3 separate regions of the Homo sapiens genome follow, and regions 2 and 3 are each linked to region 1. Evidence: fine-mapped expression QTL. A gene starts in region 1. Each other region holds a variant in brackets. All regions are shown on one strand. Distances are from middle to middle. Region 1 holds the start of TCF7L1 (transcription factor 7 like 1). Region 2 overlaps TCF7L1 (transcription factor 7 like 1). Region 3 overlaps TCF7L1 (transcription factor 7 like 1).

The links. PIP is the estimated chance that this variant, and not a neighbour inherited with it, causes the effect. A credible set is the group of variants that fine-mapping cannot tell apart.
Region 2: its variant is the best candidate, but not a certain one, in a credible set for the expression of TCF7L1 in tibial artery (GTEx, PIP 0.68).
Region 3: its variant is the best candidate, but not a certain one, in a credible set for the expression of TCF7L1 in left ventricle (GTEx, PIP 0.50).

The regions. Positions count from the first base shown.
Region 1 is chr2:85,128,245-85,136,421 of GRCh38, forward strand. TCF7L1 (transcription factor 7 like 1) reads left to right here and starts at 5,148. Exons shown (of 12, transcript NM_031283.3): 1 at 5,148-5,689; 2 at 5,772-5,835; 3 at 6,079-6,206. The coding sequence starts at 5,441. RefSeq lists a silencer at 4,748-4,817 and enhancers at 5,183-5,757, 6,333-6,907, 6,908-7,481.
Region 2 is chr2:85,267,685-85,275,861 of GRCh38, forward strand. The region is part of intron 3 of TCF7L1 (transcription factor 7 like 1); the gene reads left to right. Among named protein-coding and RNA genes, the nearest start is that of TGOLN2, 56 kb to the right of the region's middle. The variant A/G (reference allele first, on the strand shown) is at 3,976.
Region 3 is chr2:85,174,116-85,182,292 of GRCh38, forward strand. The region is part of intron 3 of TCF7L1 (transcription factor 7 like 1); the gene reads left to right. Among named protein-coding and RNA genes, the nearest start is that of TCF7L1-IT1, 8.2 kb to the right of the region's middle. RefSeq lists a silencer at 7,277-7,414 and an enhancer at 7,523-8,170. The variant A/G (reference allele first, on the strand shown) is at 3,794.

The DNA of each region.
Region 1 (8,177 bases):
CTTGCTGTTCTCATGGTAGAGTTCTTACGAGATCTGGTTGTTTGAAAATGTGTAGCGCTTCCTCTCTGTCTCTCTCTCCTGCCACCATGTGAAGAAGTCGCTTGCTTCCCCTTCACCTTCTGCCATGACTGTAAGTTTCCTGAGGCTTTCCAGTCATGCTTCCTGTTAAGCCTGTGGAACTGTGAGTCAATTAAACCTCTTTTCTTCATAAATTACCCAGTCTCAGGTACTTCTTTATAGTAGTGTGGCAACGGATGAATACATCTACTTTTCTTTTCTTGTTTTGACATAATGGATATGCCCTGGTAATAAAAATTTAAAATAAATGTCGCAGTACAGAGATATGCATGGCACTGAAAACACTGTATCACCGTGATTTGTGGTGTACTGAGCAGCAGTATGAAGTGATAAGAGCATATACTGTCCCTGTTGCAACTACAGTCAGGCACCATATAACAAAGTTTTGGTCAATGAGGGATCACATACATGATAGGGTCCCATAAAATTGTAATACTATATTTTTACTGTGCCTTTTCTATCTTTACATATGTTTGGATACACACGTACCAATGTATTACAGTTACCTGCAGTATTCAGTACAGTAACATGGTGAACAGGTTTGTAACCTAGGAGAAACAGGCTATACCATATACTCTAGGTGTGTAGTAGGCTATACCACCTAGGTTTGTGTATACTCCATATGTTCACAGAGCAATGAAATTGCCTATTTCTCAGAATGTATCCCTATCATTAAGCAATACATGTCCTAAACTCCATCATTGTTTTGTGAAAGCAGCCATTGGCAATGTATAGGCTAAGGAGTATGGCTATGTTCCAATAAAACTTTATCAACACTGATATTTGAATTTCATATAATTTTCATGTGTCATAAATATTATCCTTATTTTTATTTTTATTTTTTGGGACAAAATTTCGCTCTTGTTGCCCAGGCTGGAGCGCAACGGCGCGATCTCGGCTCACTGCAACCTCCGCCTCCCGGGTTACAGGCATCTGCTACCACGCCTGGCTAATTTTTTTTTTTTTTTTTTTTTTGAAACGGAGTCTCGCTCTGTCGCCCAGGCTGGAGTGCAGTGGCACGATCTCGGCTCACTGCAAGCTCCGTCTCCCGGGTTCACGCCATTCTCCTGCCTCAGCCTCCTGAGTAGCTGGGATTACAGGCGCCCGCCACCACGACCGGCTAATTTTTTGTATTTTTAGTAGAGACGGGGTTTCACCGTGTTGACCAGGATGGTCTTGAATTTCTGACCTCAGGTGATCCACCCGCCTCGGCCTCCCAAAGTGCTGGGATTACAGCCGTGAGCCACTGCGCCTGGCCCTTATGATCTTTTTCAACCACTTAAAAATGTAAAAAAAGCGGCCGGGCGACGTGGCTCACACCTGTAAAACCAGCACTTGGGCGGATCACCTGAGGTCAGGAATTCGAGACCAGCCTGGTCAACATGGAGAAACCCCGTCTCTACTAAAAATACAAAATTAGCCGGGCGTGGTGGTGCATGCCTACATTCCCAGCTACTCAGGAGGCTGAAGCAGGAAAATTGCTTGAACTCGGGAGGTGGAGGTTGCAGTGAGCCGAGATGGCACCATTGCACTCCAGTCTGGGCAACAAGAGTGAAACTCCGTCTCAAAAAAAAAAAAAAAAAAGTAAAAAAAAAAAGTCTTAGCTGAGACCATTCAAAAACAGGCAGCAAGCTGTAGTATGCTGCTCTAGATGGTTGTTTTTGGTTTGGCCTCTATGCCTGGTGCTACAAATCACCAAATTCTCTGAGGGGATGAAACAGCAGTGAATACAAACTCGCTTGAATGAATTTCCCTTCTGGTATTTTGACTCCTCACGTCCTGGCTGACTTGGTTGACAGTGATGCCTTCAACTCAGCTGGGTTTTGTTGTTTTATTTTGGTATTTTATCCAGTTTATAGTTAGTTGTTCTTGATGAAGGAGTCAATCTGACATCAATACCCCATTAGAATGGGAAGTGGAAGTCTACATGTTAATTTTAATTTGCTACTTTTGCTTACCATTATGAGCCTCCTTCTATATTGACAAATATATCTCCACAATGTCATAACATTCCATTAGATGAATGCACCATGATTTAACTTAATAATTCCCTATAGGGGACATTGAAATTGTTTCTAGATTTTTTCACTGTGATGAACACACTTCTACAGGTTTATTTTTGTACCTAGTTGTTTCCTTCAGATAAAATCCTAGAAGTACGTGGATAAGTCAAAGGGTTCACACTTTTAAAGGTATTTCACAGGTATTACCAAACTTCTCTTTAGAACTGTTACACAATGGCCCAGCATCTATGTGCTTCTTAGTATAGGGGCCAATGCTGGGTGTTACCATTCTTTTCTTCCTTTGCCAATCTGACAGATGAAAACTGGTTATCTCAATGCTGTTTCCGTTTGCATTTCTGGTTTATAGGTGTGGCAGGCTGATAATGGCTTACTCCCAAAGCTGCATCTATGACCTAATCCCTGGAAACTGTGAATGTTTAAGGAAAAGAGGTCTTTGCAGATATGAAGTTAAGGATTTTGACATGGACAGGTTATCCAGGTGGTCCTTAAATGCTATCACAAGTATCACTTTTTTTTTTTTTTTTTTTTTTTTGAGACAGAGTCTCACTCTGTCGCCAAGGCCGGAGTGCAGTGGTGCCATCTCAGCTCACTGCAACCTCCTCCCTCCAAATTCAAGCGATTCTCCTGCCTCAGCCTCCCAAGTAGCGGGGATTACAGGCGCCTGCCACCACACCTGGCCAATTTTTTGTATTTTTGGTAGAGACAGGGTTTCACCATGTTGGCCAGGCTGGTCTGGAACTCCTGACCTCGTGATCCACCTGCCTTGGTTTCCCAAAGAGCTGGGATTACAGGCGTGAGCCACTGTGCCCGGCCACAAGTATGGTTTCTTACAAGAAGGGGGCAGAGGAAAATTTGTCACAGACAAAAAAAGGAGAAGGCAATGTGATTACAGACGCAAGGGTGGGAGTGATGTGGTCACAAGCCCCCAGAAGCTGCAAGAGACAAGGGTAGATTCTTTTCGGAGCCTCCAGAGGGAGCATGGCCCCGTCAACACCTCCATTTCTACTCAGTGAAACTGACAGTGGACTTCTGTCTTCCACAACTATGAGAGGATAAACTTCTGTTGTTTTAAGCCACCAAGTTTTCGTGATTTGTGACAGTAGCAGCAGAAAACTAGTACAATAGGTTTTTCATATATTTATGGACCATAAACATGAAAAATCGTCTGACTTTTAAATCTTATAAAAATAAAATAACACACAATAATACAAAGAGTATGATTCTATGTATGTACATCAGAATATCTGTAAATACGTTTACATATGTTCATAACTGCCTAGGAAAGTGTCTGGAAGGATATATACCAAACTAGTGACAGTGGTTAACCAGAGGCAGTTAACTGAAAGTGGTTAATTAGAAGGGTCCTGTGTCCTGAGGGGGAAAGAGGAACTTTTACTTGTTACTCGATACTGCTCAAGATACATCTGTTATTTGAAAACGCTTTATGAGACTGTACTCATGTATTGTGTAAAAAATTAGAAAAGGCATATCTGCTTGTTATAAAGTTCATAGAAACCAGAAAACTATCTCCTTTCACTTATCCTTTCCCAGAAATAGTCATTGATAATAATTTGCATCTTCTCAGATTTTTTTCTACGCAGAAATAAATGTGTATAATTTTTTTAAAAACAAAAATAAAATAGTGAGTGTCATATATAGTGTTTCATTTAAAGATGTTCCTCCAAAATCAATCTTGGTCCATGTGCCTGTGTGTGTGTGTGTGTGTGTGTGTGTGTGTGTGTGTGTGTGTGTGTGTATGGGTGGGGGGAGGGGCGGGGACACTGCATAGAACTGGCCAGCTGCATGGACTGTCACTGTAAAGAAAGATGAAGAATGCATGTCACCAAGCTCTCTGATGCTTTGAACCTAGCATATGTGGCTTTGCCCATATGTGCGGGCACCTCTGTAGAAACTCTTCTGCCAGTTGGGCTGAAAATAGTTTTACATAGTTCCATACTGCCTTCCAAGCTGTTTTCAAAGTTTATGCTCTAATAGTTCCCCACGGAGGATAACACAAGATATTCATTTTCCTCAAACTTTCCCGCACAGGTTGGAGAGAAACGACATCTTAATGTCATTGTAACAGGCATTTCTTTATTAAAAAAATTTTTTTTTTGGAGACAAGGTCTTGCTATGTTGCCCAGGCTGGTCTCAAACTCCTGGGCTCCAGCGATCCTCCTGCCTAGGCCTCGGGAGTAGATGGAACTCCAGGCGCGGGCCGTGGCGCTCGCACCACAGGCATTACTTAGGTATGAGGCTGGTTGAGCATTTTTCTCGTGTTCACTGGCTACTCACGCAGCTTTGTGAATGGCTTCGGAGATCACTGGACAGGCAATTTTCCCTCTCAATGAACCAAATCCAAATTCTTTTGGAACCCAAGACCGCGATTTTTCGATTTAGGACCTAGTCCCAAACAATGAAGAAAAGGTGATCTTCAAGATTTCAGCAGGGAAATCTGTATATCTGTACAAGGTTGAAAACCTGGGCCGGGGGTCGCGTTGGAACCCCACAGGAAAAAGGCGCGGAAAGCCGCCGGGCATTTTCCGGGGTTCCATAGATGTCCCCAGTGTCCTAGTCCGTGCATCAGCTCGCGCACTCGGAGGGACTCTAGGCAGGGGGAGGGCCCCGCGGCCAGTATGTGCGTCCGAGGCTTTCCCGCAGGGGGCAGTGCCGCCCGCCCGCGCGCCGATACGGTGGGAGGGGGTGGGAACCTGCGCGGAGTTCTGGAGGTTCTTTGGGAGAAAGTTAGGGGATGCGGAGGGGTGGGCGCAAGACTTCCAGGACTCCAGGGAGGCCGTGGGGAGGGCCGCCGAGGGTGCAGTGTGAGGCGCAGGAGGGGGTTGGGGGCGGTGCACGTTGCAGGGAGACGCAGCCCCTGGAAGATGCGAGTGTGAACGTGTGAGTGTGAGTGCGTGTGTATGTGTGTGTGTGCGCGCGCACCGCAGCTCTCCGGGTTCCGCGAGGCGCGCGGGTGTCAGCTTGCAGCCGGGGCTCCTCCCTCCGGCCCCCCTGCCCAGCCCGGCGGTCCCTCCTCCCTCCCTCCCCGCTCGCCCCTCCCCGGCGGGCCAGGGGCTGGGACGCCCCGGCGGAGCAGGCGGCGGCGGTGGCGAGTTGGGGAGCCCTAGGCTCGGCGCTGCCGGAGGGGCCCGAGCCGAGCCGCCTGCGCCCCGGCCGGGCAGCGCCGGGCCCGCTTCCCGCGGGGCCACGCCCTGTCAAACTTTGTTGCGGCGGCTAGCGCAGCGGGCCCGCAAGCGGGCGGGAGGGGCGCCGGGCCGGGCCGGGCAGGGCGCGGGCGGCTAGGGGCTCCGAGAGCGGCGGCCCCGGCCCGCGGCCCCACCATGCCCCAGCTCGGCGGCGGGGGCGGCGGCGGCGGCGGCGGCAGCGGGGGAGGCGGCGGCTCCAGCGCCGGGGCGGCCGGCGGAGGGGACGACCTCGGGGCGAACGACGAGCTGATCCCCTTCCAGGACGAGGGGGGCGAGGAGCAGGAGCCGAGCAGCGATAGCGCCTCGGCGCAGCGGGACCTAGACGAGGTCAAGTCGTCCCTGGTCAACGAGTCGGAGAACCAGAGCAGCAGCTCGGACTCGGAGGTAAGGAAGCACCGCGGCCACCCCCGGGGGATCCCGGCCCTGCGTCCGCTCACCCGCTCTTGCCTTTGTGTCTCCTCCGCAGGCGGAGAGGCGCCCGCAGCCCGTCCGGGACACTTTCCAGAAGCCGCGGGACTATTTCGCCGAAGGTATGTGCCCGCTGGGACAGCCCCCCACTCTCGATTCCCGCTGCGCTCCGCTGCTCAGCCCGGGCGGCCCACCGTCCCCCTTGCTTGGGTGGACGCACCCTTGCCCTCCGCCTTTATTGGCGGCAGCCCCCGTGGGGCGCGCGTGGGGGGCGCTGGGGTCCCCAGCTCCCGCCTCGAGCCCCCTGCCGCGGCGCTGTCAGTCCCGGGGGCCTGGGCCTCACCTCGCCTTGGTCTTGTTCGCAGTGAGAAGGCCTCAGGACAGCGCGTTCTTTAAAGGACCCCCGTACCCTGGGTACCCCTTCCTGATGATCCCGGACCTGAGCAGCCCGTACCTCTCCAACGGACCCCTGTCTCCCGGAGGAGCGCGCACCGTGAGTGCCCGTCGGGCGCGCCGGGGAGGGTGGGAGGCCGCGGCCCGCAGGATGCGCCCCCGGGCTTGGCCATGGAGTGGGGGATGGGGCCTTCTGCGCCGATCCCAAGCAGAACTTGTTTGCGGAGTTGAACTACTCTCTGGCGGCCGAGCGCGAGGCTGCGCTGGCCAGTGCCTGGATGAAAGTAAAGTTACTTTAACTTTTCCCCTCTTGCGGGTTGAGGTTTTGGAGTCCACCTCTGGGATCTTCCTTGGCCTCCAGAATTCTTCGCCTGCACCGAAGGAAACTTGGATTTGTGCCCGCTTTGGGGGGGTCTCGCTTTCCTTCTTGGAAATCGGTCAGCTTTCTCTGGCAGTGGGGCAAGGGGCCTAGGGAGCTGGGTTGGCGACGTTGTCCTCCGACTCCGGGTTCACTGGGCGGCTGCAGGCTGGTTCCTAAGAAACCCAGTTTTCGTGGCGGGTTATTCACAGCCCCCGTTCCCACCCCCAGCCCTCGCACCGGGGCCTCAGCTTTTCTGCGGAGCTAGCTCCGAATTTTAAACTCGCGTAGATGATTTCGAGGCGACCCAAGGCATTCTTCAAGTTGAGGAACTTGGCTTTTTCCCCCTTTTGTCGCCTGCTTTTCTCATTTAAAGCGAGCGCTGCGACACTTTAAACCTGTTAATGGGCGCGTATTGTGTGCTGCCCGCTGGCATTTAGAGCGGTGATTAAGCAAATTGACCGGGCCCCAGACGACGTGCAAATGAGGGCGGATTCCTTCGCCCCCTCTCTCTGGCTCTAAACTCCCGCCCCCCGCGTTGCGAGGGGCGCAGCTGGGGGCTGGCGAGGCCTTTGTGTCCCCCAAGCCGCCACTCCACCCCTAGGCTCCCTGCCCAGGTGCTGGGTCCGATGACAGATGTTGGGTGAACGCCTACCTACTGTGTGCCAGGTTCCCGCGTGCTGCTGCTTGGGCGCGATGTGAATCGTAGTAGTTCTTTGCTTCCCGCCCAGATTCCCATTGCCTGCCACTTCGCTGTCGACGGTGGGTAAGGGGGCAGGGAGTGTTAGCCTCTTAGGAGCAGGGTCCCAGCAACACACTTTATGCTAAGACTGCCCTAAAATAACGACGATAATTAAAGGGTGCTAGAGAAAGGCTAGGTGCTGAATGGCCATTCCTGCTGTCATTGTACAGCGGTCGGTGGAGAGCCAAGTCCTCCACATTTGGTTCAGCGGGGGCGCTACCATCACCAGATGGGTTGGAGGGGGATTGACGGGGGGCGGTGGAAGAGACTCTGACTGAGAGAGAGGGGAATGGGGAGTGGGACTACACAGACCTCACAGTTTTGCCCCGAGAGGGAGGGAGGTCTTGCAGCTTTGGCCCTGCTGGCCTGGAGCACCCCAGGAAGTCCTGAATGTAAGTGTCAGTTTTGCAGTGAAAACTGGATGTGGGTCTATGGCTGTTGCTTTTTCTCATTAAAAGAAAAGAGGTGCGTGCCAATCAAAGGGGGGGGGGGATCAACGAGCTGCTGCGGTCTTATTTAGGTTTTCAGTGATTCCCACCAGTGCCCACACATGTAGCTTAGTTCTGCAAGTTTTGTTGGGATTCGTGTAACTTTGCGTATGGGGGAGAGTTAATGCCGCTAAAGTCTCAGGTTTCCATTTACTATTAGGATATCTAGAGAGAGGGGTCTGGGAGGCACTAGCATCTGTGCATCAGCCCTCAGCCAAGTCCTGATGCAGTTAAAGTCACCAGAAATGACTATTTCACCATCAAATATGACTATGGCTCCCTCAAGGCTATTTCTCCATGCACCCATTTCTCTTTAGGGCATTTTGATTCATCCAGGCTCTGCTGTCTGCTCTCTCTGACAGTCCAAGTGAGACAGATTTTTGTTAGTGTCCCCTCCTTCCTTCCTTCTATCACATTATGTGTTCTTTCGCCTAAGAACTTCCAAAGGCTGATTCTTGCTGATCCTGGAGATTCCTGATTACT
Region 2 (8,177 bases), 140 kb after region 1:
TGGGATAGACTGGGGCAAGTTAGTTAACCTCTTTGTACCTTAATCCCTCCATCTGTTAAATGAGGATAATAATAGCATCAACTTATAAGGCTGTGGGGGTTAAACGAAATAACACATGGAGTATCTGGCACAAGGTAACGCATCACTAAATGTTTTCTTTAAAGAAATCTGTTTATCCAAGATTTATGCAGACAGTTTCCTGTCCCTGGCTTTGGCACATACTTATTTGCTTATCTGAAATGATATTAATATCAAACAGAGTATGAATTTCAGAAGTGCTGTATTCCACAGTGGGGCTGAACAGAAGAATCCCAGCATCAAGGCCCCCAGCTACAAAAGATTAGAATGTTTTTGTTTGTTTTTTAATAATGTATTAACTGTAGGGGAAAATATAAAAATAGAAGCAGATATGATATTGGTAAATGTTTTTTATTTGATCACTTTAGGTAAATGGAGTCTTACTCACCTGATAGGGTCCCCAGTGGCAGCGGACTTTCCCATTCCCTCTATCCATCATTCTCCCAAAAGGTGATGGTTTCTCTGTTCTCACCCTAGGTCAGCTAAATTAGGGTCTGTGGCAACAACCCCAGGAGTGTGACCGCTAATTGCCTTTGCAGACAACATTTCCACTAGAGCTGCCTGGGAGGCAGCACCTCCAGAGAGAAGGACTTGCACCTCTAATTTGGTTAATCCTAGAACACCCTGCAATAGTCATCAAGCACCTCTCACAAATGATATGCTGTGCTTAAGGCCGTGGGGACCCAAAGGGCGAATAAGATTGGATGCCTTTTTTTTTTTTTTTTTTTGAGACGGAGTCTCGCTCACGTCACCCAGGCTGGAGTGCAGTGGCACGATTTCGGTTCACTGCAACCTCTGCCTCGTGAGTAGCTGGGATTACAGGCGCCCGCCACCATGCCCGGCTAGTTTTTGTACTTTTCATAGAGACGGGGTTTCACCATGTTGGCCAGGCTGGTGTCGAACTCCTGACCTCAGGTGACCCACCCTCCTCGGTTTCCCAAAGTGCTGGGATTACAGGCGTCAGCCACCGTGCCCAGCCTGGATGCCTTTCTGAAGCGGCAGGTTAAAAAAAAAAAAAAAAAGATTGGATGCCTATCCCCAAAGAGCTTAGGGGAAGCTAAGCGAGGAAATGAGCCTGGCTGTGAGCTGGAAAGTCAGCGGGCAGCAGGGTGTGTGACCGACCTGGAGGAACGAGTGTGGGGCAAGGTGAATGTTAGGGAGCCATTGCAAGACAGTGGTAGTTGAGATTGAAAAAACACAGGACTTGATGGGCTAGATGACAAAGTGAGGAAGAAGGTGGAGGAAAAGATGTCTGAGGTTTTGACCCTGCAGGTACATGAGAAGAGAGAGATGGTAGATCTCGGTGAGAAGCAATTTGGGAAGACAATAGTGGTGTGTCCTGGGATGCTCTGACCTTTGAGTCTGTGTGCAGAACCTCTTTCTCCAATTCCTAGGGGTGCCCTCATCCACAACTGGCAGTAGCCCCTGGATGGCCACAAACATGCAGTCCTACAACCATATTCCCTGGATGTCACTTCCTCACATAATCTTTGCCACATACCACCTATACTATTTACATAATTATTTTTCTTTGAATTGATTCACTTTTTTCCACTTTTTAAAAATGGAGCTTCACTGTAAGCAACAGTATCCAAGATATCAAACTTTGCCTGTAACATGCATGTGTAATTGTGTATACGTATATACATGTGTATACACATACATAAAAAATACACATACATATGTATTTATAATTTTGTTTGTTTGGCTATATATACATTTTTGTTTTGTTGTGTTTTGTAGAGACAGGGTTTCACCATGTTGCCCAGGCTACTGTTGAACTCCTGGGCTCAGGTGAGCCTCCCAAAGTGCTGGGCTTACAGGCGTGAGCCACCACACCCAGCCAAAAATACTGGCTTAAATACTTAAATATTTTAAATACTTAAATATTTTAAGGCCGATTAATGTAAATATTTTAGGTACTAAAAAATAGGAGGTGTTGTTTAATAGTATTGAGATGGGAACTTCTCAGCCCTTCCACTGTCCGTCATAACTTCCTGCACCCTCCCTTCAATATGGACATAAAATCGTGTTGTTCCCTGAGATATGTAAGCCACATGTGCACCCACATTTGCATACACACTAGTGTAGGGTGCAGGACCCCTTCTTCAGGCTCCTTTATCAGGAGCAATGGCCCTGTATAGAGGTGGCTGGTGTGACCCTTATTCTCCTGTGTTCTTGTTCACCTGTGGGGTCGGAGAGCTCTCCTGGAACTGCCCGTCTATGGAGAGGCCTCCTCAGACATTTCCCATCTCCCGGTGCCCAGGAGTTGTTGACTTTGGCCAGCTGCTGGGCCTGCAGGAGCCGCGGGGAAGGGTTCTAAGAGACCCTTGAAGCTCTGTGGCTGGAAGGCAGCTCCAGGCTGCCTGGCTGTTCTTTTGTGTTGAGTATTTCACTGGCCCCAGATAAGCGCTTCCTGTTCCTCACTGATTATACACAGATCCTGCTTCCTTTCTCCTCAATACCTGGGATGCTTTCCAGCTTCTCCTCCCATAGGGGAAAGTCCGTAAACTTTAGAATTCTCAGGCCTGCTTTTGGTCAATGGACTTTCTGCAAATTATGACTGTTTTTGCCATCTAGTCACATTCTTGGTGAAGCCTTCACCTCTGTCTAGGAGCTGAGTTCCGCTTTGTGCCAGCCAGGAGAGATGCTTCTATGACCTGGTTTCTGCCCCTCCTTCTCACCAGACAGAACATCTGTATCTACCTCCTGGCGTAAATCAGAGAGAATAAATAGATTGCACCTTACAGGTCAGTTTTAATCAACTGTTAGTAGCTGCCTCAGTGTTGAGGATTCTGAGGTCTTACCCACCTTTAGCAAGAAAGAGTGCCATGGTCTACTAGCAGTGTCTGCCACAAGCACGGAGGGATGGGACTGCTCCTGTGCCCCATATTTGCTATCCCAAGATTCCGAGATCAGTTGGAAGTTTCTTTATTTTTTATTTAGAGACAGAGTCTCACTCTGTCACCCAGGCTGGAGTGCAGTGGCGCAATCACAGCTCACTGCAGCCTCGAGCTCGAGGGCTGAGTCGATCCTCCCAGCTCAGCCTCTCGGGTAGCTGGGACTACAAGCGTGCGCCACCACACCTGGCTAATTTTTTTTGTATTTTTGTAGAGACGGGGTCTCATCTAACTTTGTTTCCCAGGCTGGTCTTGAACTCCTGGGCTCAAGTGATCCACCTGCCTCAGCCTCCCAAAATGCTGCGATTACAAGTGTGAGTCCCATTCCCAACCACAAGTTTCTAGAAGGCAGAAATCATGTCCTTGTACCCTTAGAGTTACAACATAAACGCCCAAAGTCCTATATTCTAGTGCCAGTGTCGAGGAAATCCAACAGCCTCCAGCAGGCTCAATTTCCTTTGTTTTTTTGATTCAGAGTCTCCCTCTGTCACCCAGGCTGGAGTTCAATGGTGCGATCTCAGCTCACTGCAACTTCTGCCTCCCAGATTCAAGCAGTTCTCCTGCCTCAGCCTCCCAAGTAGCTAGGATTACAGGCACCCGCCACCACACCCGGCTAATTTTTGTGTTTTTAGTAGAGACGTGGTTTTGCCATATTGGCCATGCTGGTCTTGAGCTCCTGACCTCGTGATCCTCCTGCCTCGGCCTCCGAAAGTGCTGGGATTACAGGCATAAGCTACCGCGCCCGGCCCAGTTTCCCATTTTTTAAATGAACATAATAATATCTGCTTTACCTATATCCAGGAGTCAGTAATATCAAATCAGATAATTCATATGGAATGCTTTAAAAAGTAAAACAACTGTAGAAGTATATCCTGCCTGCAGGACCCAGCACAGATGCCACCTCCTCTATGAAGTTTTCAGTTGTAACACGATAATTCTTGCCCATTGCCATCCCTGTCTTATCTGAACCTGTCATTTATAGGCTTATAGTCTAGTT[A/G]TTTATGTACTTTAAAAATCTCTCCTGTGGTATATCATGCATATAAACAGCCACCTTTTATATGAGATACTCACTAAACTTTGATGGAGGGCTCTGTACAGAGCTGTCACTGCATCTTGATCATCTGGTAGGCAGTCCTGTAAGAATGAGTAGCCTCCTGCTAGCTTTAAACAGCACAGTTTTATGTTTTAGAAAGATATTTCTAGAGGTAAGTGAAGGGTAGACTGGAAGAGATGAACTGAGAACAGGAGCACTGATGACTCAATGGAGAGAGGATTTGGGATCCCTTCATTTCTGTCAACTACCCTATTCTTGGACAACAGACATTTTGTCAATGTGAGGCAAAGCAACCTGCCGATGTGGTTTGCAGCCCACTACCACCCCTTTCAAACCGGGTTGCCCCCCACCCCCGCTGCCTTCCTCCTGGGTGAGAACCTGCAGGAGCTCAAGCAAACCCAGAAGGCTGCTGCAGGGGCTCCTCCTCGGAATAGGGTTCAAAAAATGTCCAGAAGCCATATAATTGGGTGGCCCAGAGCAGGTTAGGGAGGTAACTAAAGTCATTAAAGTGGATTTTGAGGTTTCTGGTTAGGTACACTGAAGGCACAGGATTGAAAATAATTCATCTGGGGTTACTTTTAATAGCTTTGCTTACTGTTGCTATGATATAAGACATACTGATTGTAAAAATTTCAAGTGAAGAAGAAAAATATGAAAAAGGAACTAATAAAATTGCCTGAAATGTTAAAAATCCAGCGATAACATTTGGGTGACTATGCTTCCAGATTATTTAATTGGCTTTTCTCACTGAACAGTTTGTCCAGCACACTTTATTCAGGTCAATAAATGTGGATGACCGGGCGTGGTAGCTCAAAGCTATAATCCCAAGCACTTTGGGAGGCTAAGGCGAAAGGATCACTTAAGGCCAAGAGTTTCAGACCAGCCTGGGCAACATAGTGAGACCCTGTCTCTACCAAAAAAAAAAAAAATTAGCCGGGTGGTGTGGTGCTTGCCTGTAGTCCCAGCTATGCAGGAGGCTGATGTGGGAGGATTGCTTGATTCCATGAAGTCAAGGCTGCAGTGAGCTACAGTCGTGCCACTGCACTCCAGCCTGGCTGACAGGGCAAGACCCTATCAATCAATCCATTAACCAGTATATCAATCAATCAATCAATAAAAAAATCACCCAAAAGGCATGCAGAACCTGCAGCCACAGGGCAGGAGCGGGGAGAGGCTTCCCCAGAGCTGCCCATGTCATGTGGCAGTTCAAAAGCCAGTTGCCTTTATTTTCTTCCTAAAGTCATCCATGGCCTTGCAAAGACAGGAGAGTGTCTACAGAGACAGTGGAGGGAGTGGAACAGAAGCCAGCCTTCTGGGGGCTGAGAAGTACCTGGGAGGCGGGGAGGGCATGTAAGCAGCCTGTGTACATGCGGGGAAGGGAAAGGGGGAGAACCAGAAGGGGCAGCTGCCCACCAGCAGCTTCCTGGGCTCTCCTCCCACCTCCTCCTCACTCACAACAGCGCACAGACTCAGCCTCAGCTCCTTCTCTCTGGCCTCTTCCACCTGAGTGAAGATCAAGTGCAGGAGAGGTTGCACAGGCTGTGCCAGCTGCAAGGAACCCACAGACCCCTCCTGTGTTTCACCTGCAGTGACTCCATATTCGTCCTCCCCCATCCCCGCCATCCAGCAGATTATGTGCCCCACTTCCTCTGTGCCACACACATCTTTTTTCCCTCCTTCAAATCATCACCCATACAGAGGACAATTCGCAGCCTCACTCATTATAAGAGTAATGGAAACTCCAGTGAGGGACTTTTTTACCTGTCAGTTTGGCAAAGTTTAAACAGTTTGATAACCTTGTATGGGCAAGGGTGTGGGGAAATAAGCCCTCTCCCAGGTTGCTGTTAGCAGTGTCAACTGGGAGAAATTTAATAACACTCCTCAGAACTTAAGTGTGCATATCTTTGACCTAGTGATTCCCCTCACAGCTGGAAATGTGTCCTCCCACTATAGACATACATGGGCGACACGGTGAGTGTTCAAGGGTGTTCACTGCAGCAGAAGCCTGGGAAACACCTCCATGTCTGTGAGCATGGGCCCCTTGAGTCGGTTATGGCACCTCCTGTAACCCAGGAGGAGGCAGCTCTGTGGGGATGGCTATGGGACCAGCCCTACTATGCCGGCGAATGGAGTGGGGGCAGAGTGGCGTGGGTGGGTATGGGCAGGCCAGAGAACAGGCTGCAGGCTGTGAAGGAGAAAGGCATTTGCTCTTTCAGCCCAGTCTGAGCTCCTGGTCAGAGGCCAGCAGGTGGACTCTGCATCCTGTGGGGGCCAGGGCAGATGTTCTCACCTGAGGGCCTGAGGGGAGGGAAGCGTGTCAGTAGATTCCCAGGCACACAGCGACAGGGGAGAGACAGAGGGAGGGGCCCAGCAGGGTTCACCTCAGGGAAAGGAGGACTGGGCCTCCAAAGCCAGTTTCCACGAAGACACTTCCTGCAGCACATTGGTGGCTGGGCAGTGAGCATAGACACTGCACAGACACTGCCCAGGCCCAGCAAACCCAAGGTCACAGCCGATGGGAGAGGCAGCTTGCGACTCAGCAGGCCCAGCGCTCCAGGCTGCAGAAATGCGGACTCGAAAGCAAGTTGAACTTTGACATTGTTTGAAAGCCTAGGGCTCTGTCCCGGGGTCCCCCTGGTCAGGGCCACCACAGAATGGCTGTGCCTAGTGCTCTGGGAGCAGAGTTTTCCCTCCTCCAGAGCATGCAGCTGTCGGGGGACATACCTAGCCAAGTGTCCGGCTCTCCATCAAGACCTCAAGCAGGCCCACGTCAGCTGAGAACCATGTGTGTCTCAGCTTTCCAGCCATCCCAGCAAGTCAGGACACATCTGAGACCACCCCTCCAACCCAGCTCTTGCCCACGGTCATTGGTGTGCCTGAGCCAGCTGGCACCCAGCCAATTGGTAGCATCTCTTCCGCGCTGAGCCTTCAGTGACTCATCGTGGTACCTTGAAATCAGCGGGAGTGTTTACACCATGAATACCAGCAAATGCTTTGGTTTTTCACTTTGTTTTTTGCTTAGAGAGCCAGTTGTTAGGCATTTACCAACACACCACCGAACCAGACCTGTCTCCCCAGGTAAAGCGCAGGTCACAGGCTCCTAGAATACCAATAACTTACACATTTAGTGACTGAACACAGATTTCTTACAAGCTCCCCGCATGCCCCACACTCTGCCTGGTCCTCTCCAGTGTGAGAGGACACTCACACTTGAGTGTGACAGCCACACGTGAGATAATCACTCTGCCAGGCAGTAGGTGTTCTTATTCCTATTTTACATGTGGAAACCAGAGGTTCTGAAAGGTGATGTACACAGGCACACAGCTTGTAAGTGGGGTTCAGCTAGGACCCCTGATTCCGTATTTGTTGAACACCTCAACACGGTCGGCACTCCCAGTGCCCTCTGTGTTTAGACAAACAGCTGAATTTGATTTTTCCTTCCAAAGGAGACCATCTAGTCCAGGCCCCTGCTTCAGGCTGATGAAGTAAAATATTCCCATTTTAAAGATGAGACGATGGAGTCCAGAAAGGTTAGAAAGAGCCTGGAACCCTGATCTCTTGCCTCCTGTGCTCTAAAACGAAAGCTTGGCTTCTGCGGGGGAGCCAGTTTTTAAAAACAAACCTTAGGTCAAATCTAGGAGGCAAAATTGCCAGGTTCTTTGGAATGCGAGGGGAAGAGAATAGTTTTGAGATCATCCACAAAAGAAAGAATCATTTGGGGAAAGCAGAGGAAAGAGGTGTTTATGGTGAAACTGACACCTAATTGACACACTCTTACTTTTGAGTTTACTATTCAGTTATGAAATGCTTTTGGAGCCCCTCTGCTACCAGTGCATGGGCTTTAAAGCCATTTGTTGACTAAATGCTGTGACAGGTGCTAGAGAGAGCAAAGTCACTTCATTGGTTTAAGACCAGTGTAGGCCAGGTGCGGTGGCTCACCCCTGTAATGCCAGCAGAATTGGGAGGTGAAGGCGGGCAGATCACTTGAGCTCAGGAGTTCGAGACCAGCCAGGGCAACATGGTGAAATCCTGTCTCTACCAAAACTACAATAAATTAGCCAGGCATGGTGGCACATGCCTGTGGTCCCAGCTACTTGAGAGGCTGAGATGGGAGGATTGCCTGAGCCCAGGAGGTGGAGGTTGCA
Region 3 (8,177 bases), 46 kb after region 1:
TTAGAATATTTTCATCACTGCATTAGCAGTCACTTTGTTCTCCTCTCCCCCAACCTTTGGCAGCCACCGGCCTTCTTTTTCTATGTTCTGGACCTGTCATATAAAGGGAATCGTACAGTGTGTGGTCTTTGTGATTGGTGTCTTTCACTTAGCCTGGTGTTTTCAAGGTTCCTCTGTGTCATGGTGTGTATCAGCACTTCCTCCGTTTTTGTTGCCAAATACTGTACTGCATTATATGGATATACTACATTTTGTATATCCATTCATCATTTGGGTTCGTTCTACTTCATGGCTACCACTGAGTCATTTGGAAATGTGATGCAAGGCTCAAGGCTAATGGGGTTTCCTCGCTTCCAAAAAAGAGGTGATGTTGCCCACCTGGCAGGTGGGTATGAGGCTCAGCAATGGTACATGCATCTCATTTAACTGGTCACTGTCAACTCCAAAAATGGGCCTTCCCCCATTTCTGTGGCTGTTCTGTGCTGGTGTGCAGTGTGTAAGATGGTCAGTGTTCCTGTGTTTTGACTGGTGAGTCAAGTCTGAACTCACTAGCCTAGCACCTGAGAGCCTCCTCATGGGATAGCATCCCCCTGACTCCGCCTGACAACCATCATTTCTCTTCAGTTTTCACTCCTGCCCAACTGGTTTCTTCGCAGTCTATGCCCAGGGCCTCCAGCTTTCTCACACTTGGGCCCTGCTGGGGCATCCAGCCTCTGCTCCTACATCCTTGGGTCACTGCAGGTCCCTGCCCGACCCTACCTTTCTTCCTCCGGACCTCATATTAGACCAGCTCCTCAGGCCTTTTTGGACATGACCGTCTCAAAGTGTTACTATGTTTAAGTGTGTGGTTTTTTGTTTATGTGTGTGGTTTTGTGTCTTTGATATCGTTGATTTGCCTTATGGCCTCAACCAAACCCTCACTGTAACATGGCACAGGCAGCGCCATGTGACATCCTTGTCCCTGGCCCGCCCGGCGCAGCTCACAGTGGGCTCTCTGTGAATGCTGGCTGGCTGAGTGTCTGGGAGTTGTGAGCCCTTTGCCATGTAACTGGAGAGGGTGGAAGTGTGAATGGAGACACCTGCTCAGTTGTACAATGCTCTTTGGACAGGGGATCAGGTTTAAATCAGTTTGAAGCCTGCTTTACCACCCCCTGCCCCCACAATTGTTATTTCCTGAAAGCATATGGTTGGCTGAGCTAGCTGAAAAATTACCCGAATTTTGATAAAAATTTGAACCATGGATTTCCTTTCTGACCATGCCTAGCTGTGTAAATTCCACAGGATAGTAACAGGTGCCTGGCCACCATCCAGCAAGACCCCTGATAACGTCCATGCAGTGGGGAGCCACGGGGGCAAGTGCTTCCCCTCCCTCCTGGTCATAGGCTTGAGCATGGGTAGCCAGGATGGGGGGTGGGTGCAACTTGAGATAAGCAAATCGACAACAATGAGGTACACCCTGTTCTTTGTCCTCTTGTCAACTTGTGATTTCCCGATGGATCAGGTAATCCCCAGTAGCAGATAACTCAGTTGAATTTTTTCACTGTCGCTGTTATCTGTATTCATTGTCTGCCTAAATAGTAGTGAACAGAGAAAAAAAGAACATTAAAATAGGAAGCTGGGAATGACAGGAAGAGGGACTGTAGGCCTGGTAAACAAAAGTTGGCTGTAACATGAGCCAGGATATGGAAGCGTGACCAATACTTTGGACTCTCTCAATGCTGGCCCTCTGCGGTTCATGGCTCTCCTCCCTTTCTCGCTGTCACCAGCCACGTTTAGGTCAGTCTTTGTTTTTGGCTGTTGTTCCTGAAGACGCATTTATCAGGTGGATCTCTTAAAATCAGGGTTAGGGATTGGAAGTCTAGCTGGGACAATTCCTGTGAAGACAGACTTCCTTCTGATGAAATATTTACTAGCTTTTGTAGGAAGCCATCTCCTCCTCTTTGCTGTGATAAGAGGTACTCCCCACCTTTCTGTCTCATGGCAAGGGTGGAAACTGATGATATTTGTAGGGCATACTGGGGTGAGCCAACAGGCTGGAGGCAGCCAACCCTGGGCATGCAAAGAAGCACCGTTTGGAAGCTCTGGTGTAGCTCTCGTGCAGCAGCAGTCCAGGCCCTGGGACATCTGAGTTTGAGGCTTCAGTCCTCCGCTGACTGACCATATGTTTACACTGCAGCCTGTTGTGGTATGAAATGAGATCTGGAAGCACCTGAGCTCCCCAGTGTCTGCAGGTAGATGATTATTTAATACCCTCTTCCCATACATCTTCATGGTCAGGAGACTGGACCTTGGCAATTCTGTTATTAGACAGCTCCACTCGTAGGGAATTTCTCCCTTATATTTAGCTGTTGTTTTCTCCTCCATTCCACTGTCTGGAGTCCCCATGGCAAGTTCGCATCCTCTTTCATGTCCCTGGCTCCAAAGGCTTTGGTGTCTCCAGGTAAGTAGTTCTCACATGGGCTATGACCCCTCATCCTTCATTATCCTAGAAAAATAATGCTTTTCTGAAAATTGTATATTCCATGGGAAAATCAGTAGATTTTGGAAGCCTGACATCTTAGTCCGTTCTGGCTGCTATAACAAAGTGCTGGCCAGGCACAGTGGTTCACGCCTGTAATCCCAGGACTTCAGGAGGCTGAAGCAGGTGGATCAGTTGAAGTCAGGAGTTCAGGACCAGCCTGGCCAACATGGTGAAACCTTGTCTCTACTAAAAATACAAAAATTAGCCTGGTGTGGTGGCAGGCACCTGTAATCCAAGCTACTCAGGAGGCTGAGGCAGGAGAATCGCTTAAACCCAGGAGGTGGAGGTTTCAGTGAGCCGAGATCGCACCACTGCACTCCAGCCTGGGTGACAGAGCGAGACTCTGTCTCAAAAAAAAAAAAAAAAAAAAAAATCCAACCACAAAGTGCCAGAGGGTGAGTGGACTATAAACTGCAGACATTTATTCTCATAGTTTGGGAGGATAGAGGGTGAGATCAGGGTGGTGGCACTGTCGGGTTTTGGTGAGGACCCTCTTCCAAGTTGCAGACTGCTGACTTCTTGCATTCCTCATACAGTGGAAAGAGAACAAGCCAGCTCTCTGGCCTCTTCTTATAAGGGCACTAATCCCATTCATCAGGGCTCCACCCTCATGACCTAATTACCACCCAAAGGCCCCACCTCCAAATACCATCACATTGGGGATTGGATTTCAACACAGGAATTTGGTGGCAGGGGTGTGGGGCACAAACACCTTATAATATTTGCCATATGTTTTAAAAAAATTTTAAGTATAAAGTCAACATCCACCACACTATATAAAAGAGAGACCTGGAGTGGTGGCTCATGCCTGTATTCCCAGCACTTTGGGAGGTCGAGGAAGAAGGATCACTTGAGCCCAGGCATTTGAAAGTGGCCTGGGCAAGAAAACAAGACCCCATCTCTACAAAATAATAAAAAACTAGCCAGGTGTGGTGGCGCATGCCTGTAGTCCCAGCTACTCGGGAGTCCGAGGCAGTAGGATTGCTTGAGCCCAGGAGTTTGAGGCTGCAGTGAGCCATGATTGCGCCACTGCACTCCAGCCTGGGCAACAGAGCAAGACCCTGTCTCTAAAAAATAAAAATAAAAAAATGAAAAAAGGGAAAAGACGATTATAATCCTACCACCTAACAAACTGTTTTCATTTGAGTCTTATCTTTGTCTTTATTCTGATGAATTCATATTTTATATAGTTAAAATCAAAGCATAGGTACACAGTTTTTGGTGGTTTCTTCATTTCATTATATAATGATTTCCCTCAAAGTTCTAGGCATT[A/G]TAAGATGAAGACGACAGAACACAGATATCATGTAGCTGCAGTAAGCATTGGGATGGCTGCACACCATTCTGTGGAACGGATATAGAGTCATTTGTTAACCAGTGATACTGACAGAGAGCAAGCAGATCAGTGAAGACAGGAGCAGGGCCCCCGAGCCCTGAGAAAAAGCAGGGACCTTGCCAGGTGAGGAAAAAAATGGTATGAGGTAGGGCTACACTACGCTCCCAGAGACGTCTCCATGGACAGTGAGCTCTTTAGAGGGGAAAGGAGTAAGCTTTTGAACCATTTGAATTATTTAGAAGAAAAAAACACAGTGCCTTTCTTACACACTTTTCAGAATTTCCTGTGTTTTCACCTGCCATTAGCTGGTTACTGTTTGGGCTTCCTTTCATGGTGGTAAACACAGTTTGTTTTGTTTAGCCATTTCCTTCCCCCTCAAATACCAACACAGATCAATTCAGTCTTTGCCTGAGTCATACATGGTTCATGTGTCTCTTTCCTTCCATCTATCTCCCCTTAATTCACACTATTTACTGAACTCCTCCTGTGCACCCAAGTCTCCAGAAGGAGCTGGAGAAGGAGCAGGGTGGCAGGGGTGGGAAGGGGACAGCTGTGTGGAAGGCAGCGGGGCTGGAATCCTGGCATCTAGGCCCTTTCACGCTCCCACTCAGAGGGCTCTCTCTTCAGGCCAGAAATGCTGATATTTAATGAGCACTTACTAGATGGTTATTTGTCCATTTTATAGACAGGGAAATTGAGGCCTGCCAGTGTTAATTGACCTTTCTACGGCCTAGAATCTGAAGTTGGTGCAGCCTCACTGAAGCCCTGGCTCAGCCATGGTTGCCACCCATCCTGTCTGAGCTTTGAGAACCACAGAGACAAGACAGGCGGCAGGGCTGTGATTTTAGACACTCTTGTCTTAGGTGTCTCAAGGTGGGGGTCACTTTGGAGCCTCAGCCAACCCCACTGTGATTGGATCTCCTGCCTACAGCCTGTTTCAAAGGGAAGTGGAGTTTAGGGAGACAGTCAAGAGGATGGATGGAAGAAAGGGGCTGGTTAACCTGAGAGGAGAGAAAGTAACTACCCACCCGTCAGAGCCTGGGGCTGATAAGGGAGGGCTCCTGGAAGACAGAGCTGGTGCTTCTCTCCACCTCTGAGCTGCTTTCCCTCCAGGGCCACTGGCTTCTGCAGGCGTTGTTGTCTTTTGCTCCTAAACAGCAAAAAGAGACTAATTGCCTTTATTGCCATGTTAAAATCAATAGAGCCACTCACCCTGAGTTCAAAATGATACGACCTAGGGAATGAAATTGGGACCACCTGTGGTTTGTTTCCTATTAGCCAGGCACAGAACAGTTTCTTGTTTCCCTTGGAATGAAACACAACCTGAGTCCTGGAGGAATAGTTCTCAAATGCATCCGGATCTCCTGGAGAGCCTGTTAACACACAAGCTGAGCTCCATTCCCAGAGTGTTTGATTCGGGGATTCTGGGGTGGGGCCCTGAGAATTTGTATTTCTAAGTTCTCAGGTGATGCAGATGCTGCTGGTCCCAGATGGGACTCTGAGAACCTCTATACTAGGTCATCTCTCAGACTTGGGCCTTTGTTCTCATCTTCCCCCTCCAAAACCTAACATAATCCACTACATGTGGTAGAGAGCCATCAAAAAGAGAGTTTCAGTCAAGGGGCTCTGGCTAAGTCCTGGAGCTGAGCTGCCCCCTCCCTTGCTCTGCTCACACCTTTCACCCCTCAGACTGAAACCCTCCGTTACCTGCTGCTATGCAGGGATTAGGATTAGAACAGGGCTGAGTGGGCTGGTACGGGGAGGGCCCTGCTGTGGTGTTGGTTTAGCTCCTTTTAGCACAAGGAATTTGATGAGCTAAGCATTTTCCACGGCAAGTGCATAAAAAAGATTTCTTACCATTTTTTGAAAGAAAGAAATATATCCTTTCTCTTGAGTCATCACTATTGTTAGTTGCTGAATGAAAAAAAAAGACTTAAAGCTCTGTTCTTTGAACACTTTTCTCTGGGTGCCTTTCTGTAGCTGTAGAAGATCTCTTGGGTTAAATTTTAATAATTGTTAATGGCTTCACACATAGGGGGTGTCTTGCCCTCCTGTGTAGGGTGTCACTGCCCAGGACGTGGCTTAGCCGGGTCCTGGGAACAGCTGCAAGGACTGTTGGAGAAAGGGGCAGGGGGCACTGGCTGGGGAGAGGGCCGAGAAGATCTCCTTTGAGAGATGGGGAGGGAGATGTGAGGCTGAGAATCTAGTATTGAGTTTCTAAACTTCTGATCTGCAAAGTGGTTTTTTTTTTTGTTTTTGTTTTTGTTTTTTTTTTTGGTAGAGACAGGGTCTTGCTATGTTGTATGTTACCCAGGCTGGTCTTGAGCTCCTGGCCTCAAGTGATTGTCCCGCCTTGGCCTCCCATAATGTTGGGATTACAGATGTGAGCTACGGTGCCCCAAAGTGCTCTTTTTGTTGAACAGTGTGTGAGCCCAGCTACCTGGAGGGTGTGTCTACCTGCCTGACCCTCAGCCATCGCAGCCTCATGACGGCTACACCCCGCACATTATCATACCCCTCAAATGTGCCTTCCAACCCCACACAGATTTCTTGTGGTTCCCATCCTGGTGAATCTTCTCAGTTATCCACATTACAGACCTCAGTGGAATCTTCCACACCACCTGGCTCATGATGGTCTCTGCTCCTTGCCTTTCACGTTCTTCAGAGGCTAGTGACTTCCTAAAGTGAGGATTGAGGAAATAACAACCACGATAAGAGTTACAGCTGACCCTGGAGTGTTTCCTGTGCACCAGGAGCCCGTTCCAAGTATCTGTATTTATTCACTCGTGTCATCTGTAGCAGCCCCAACACATAGGTTAGGACCTGTCACTAGTCCCATTTATAGGTAAGGAAGCTGAGGTGCTGGGAGGTTGCATGATGTGCCGAGCATCTCACAGCCAGCAAATAGCAAGTAGCTAGACCGCTTCCTCCCTGGCAGGTCTGAAGCACATGATTCCTAGCCCCAGCCTTCCTAAGGGCCCCTAACAGACGGTGGCCTTCCCCTGGCATCCAGAGTGGCTCTGCTGACTGGAGCAGTCAACTGTTTCTCCTCTGCAGTTCCTGAAGGAAGGAGAAAAGGGGGAGGCTGGTGGGTTCAGGTTTCGTAGACCTAAGAGGCCAGCTGCCCTGTGACCCCTCCTGAGTTGGGGCTTCTTTTTGGGGGATTAGGGAGGAGAGTTATAAGAGAAAGAGGTGCGGAGAGCAGGGAGCACCTGAGAGAGGGCTGGAAGAAGTGGTAAATAGATGGACCTGCCCAATGAGAGTAGCCAGCGTGTGCATGTGAGGGGCAGGTAGCACAGAGGGAATGTATTCCTTGTCTAACTTGGCATATAGCCAAAAGCTAGGTGTAAGTTAGTAAACTACAGCCTTCAAAACAGCCCCTGGGAAAGGCCCTGCTTTGGAGGGTAGAAGGACATATAGGAGGCTCCCAGAGGTACGGGTGTGCCTCCCTGCTGGGCATGGGCCCGCCTGCTGGGGGCAGCAGCAAAAGGAAGCAAGTAGCCCGGAGGAAAAAAAGAACTATGTGTGTGACTGTGTGGTGGCCAGGAGAGAGGGAGAGGGTTCAGCACACACAGGGAACCCCAGGCAGCTCCCAGAGCCCAGGGGAAGCATTCCTTTTTGTAGTTGAATGATCCCAGGGGAGCAAAAGGCTGGCTGGAGGAGAGGGAGAGGAATTCTGCTTGGAGGAGAAGGTCTGGGGCCAAACTGCCCCAGCTAAGGTGACTGGTCCGTGTGTCTGCATCTTAAATCTGAGACCATTGGTTCCTTTGCACCTGTGTAGTATCCTCAGGGAGGGTTCCCAGGGCGCTCGTCTGGTGTTGCCCCTCTTTGAGGCACCTCACTCATTGACCATTAAGCAAGCATCGAGTGGGTGTCAGTTTAACAAGTGTCTTGTGTTCAGTGCCAAGGCCAGGGGCAGGTACAAGGCATGCTGAATGCAGCCCCTGCCACAGGATCCATGTTTCAATAGGGAGGGAGACGCAGAACTTTGCGTAAAACTGAAACCTTATGGGGCGGGCCCTGTGGTGTCTAAGGCCACACTGGGAGTCTCAGATCCTGCCAAAGGACAGGGGAAAAGGGAGCAGCTGGTGGACATGGGGAGGAGGCAGGATGGACGGGGCGCCTGAAGGAATTAAGTGGGATTTCGGTTGGAGAGGAAAAGCAAAGATGGCAGGGAGAGACGAGGCCCTCAAAACTGAGCTTGTTCGTCAGATGGGAGATGGACATCCAAGCCTCTCCATGAGGTCTGGCACGTGATCTGGGGCACGGTCTGTTCTGCAGTCATAGCTGCTGGCCTGCGGGACCTGCAGGCAGAGTCCCTGA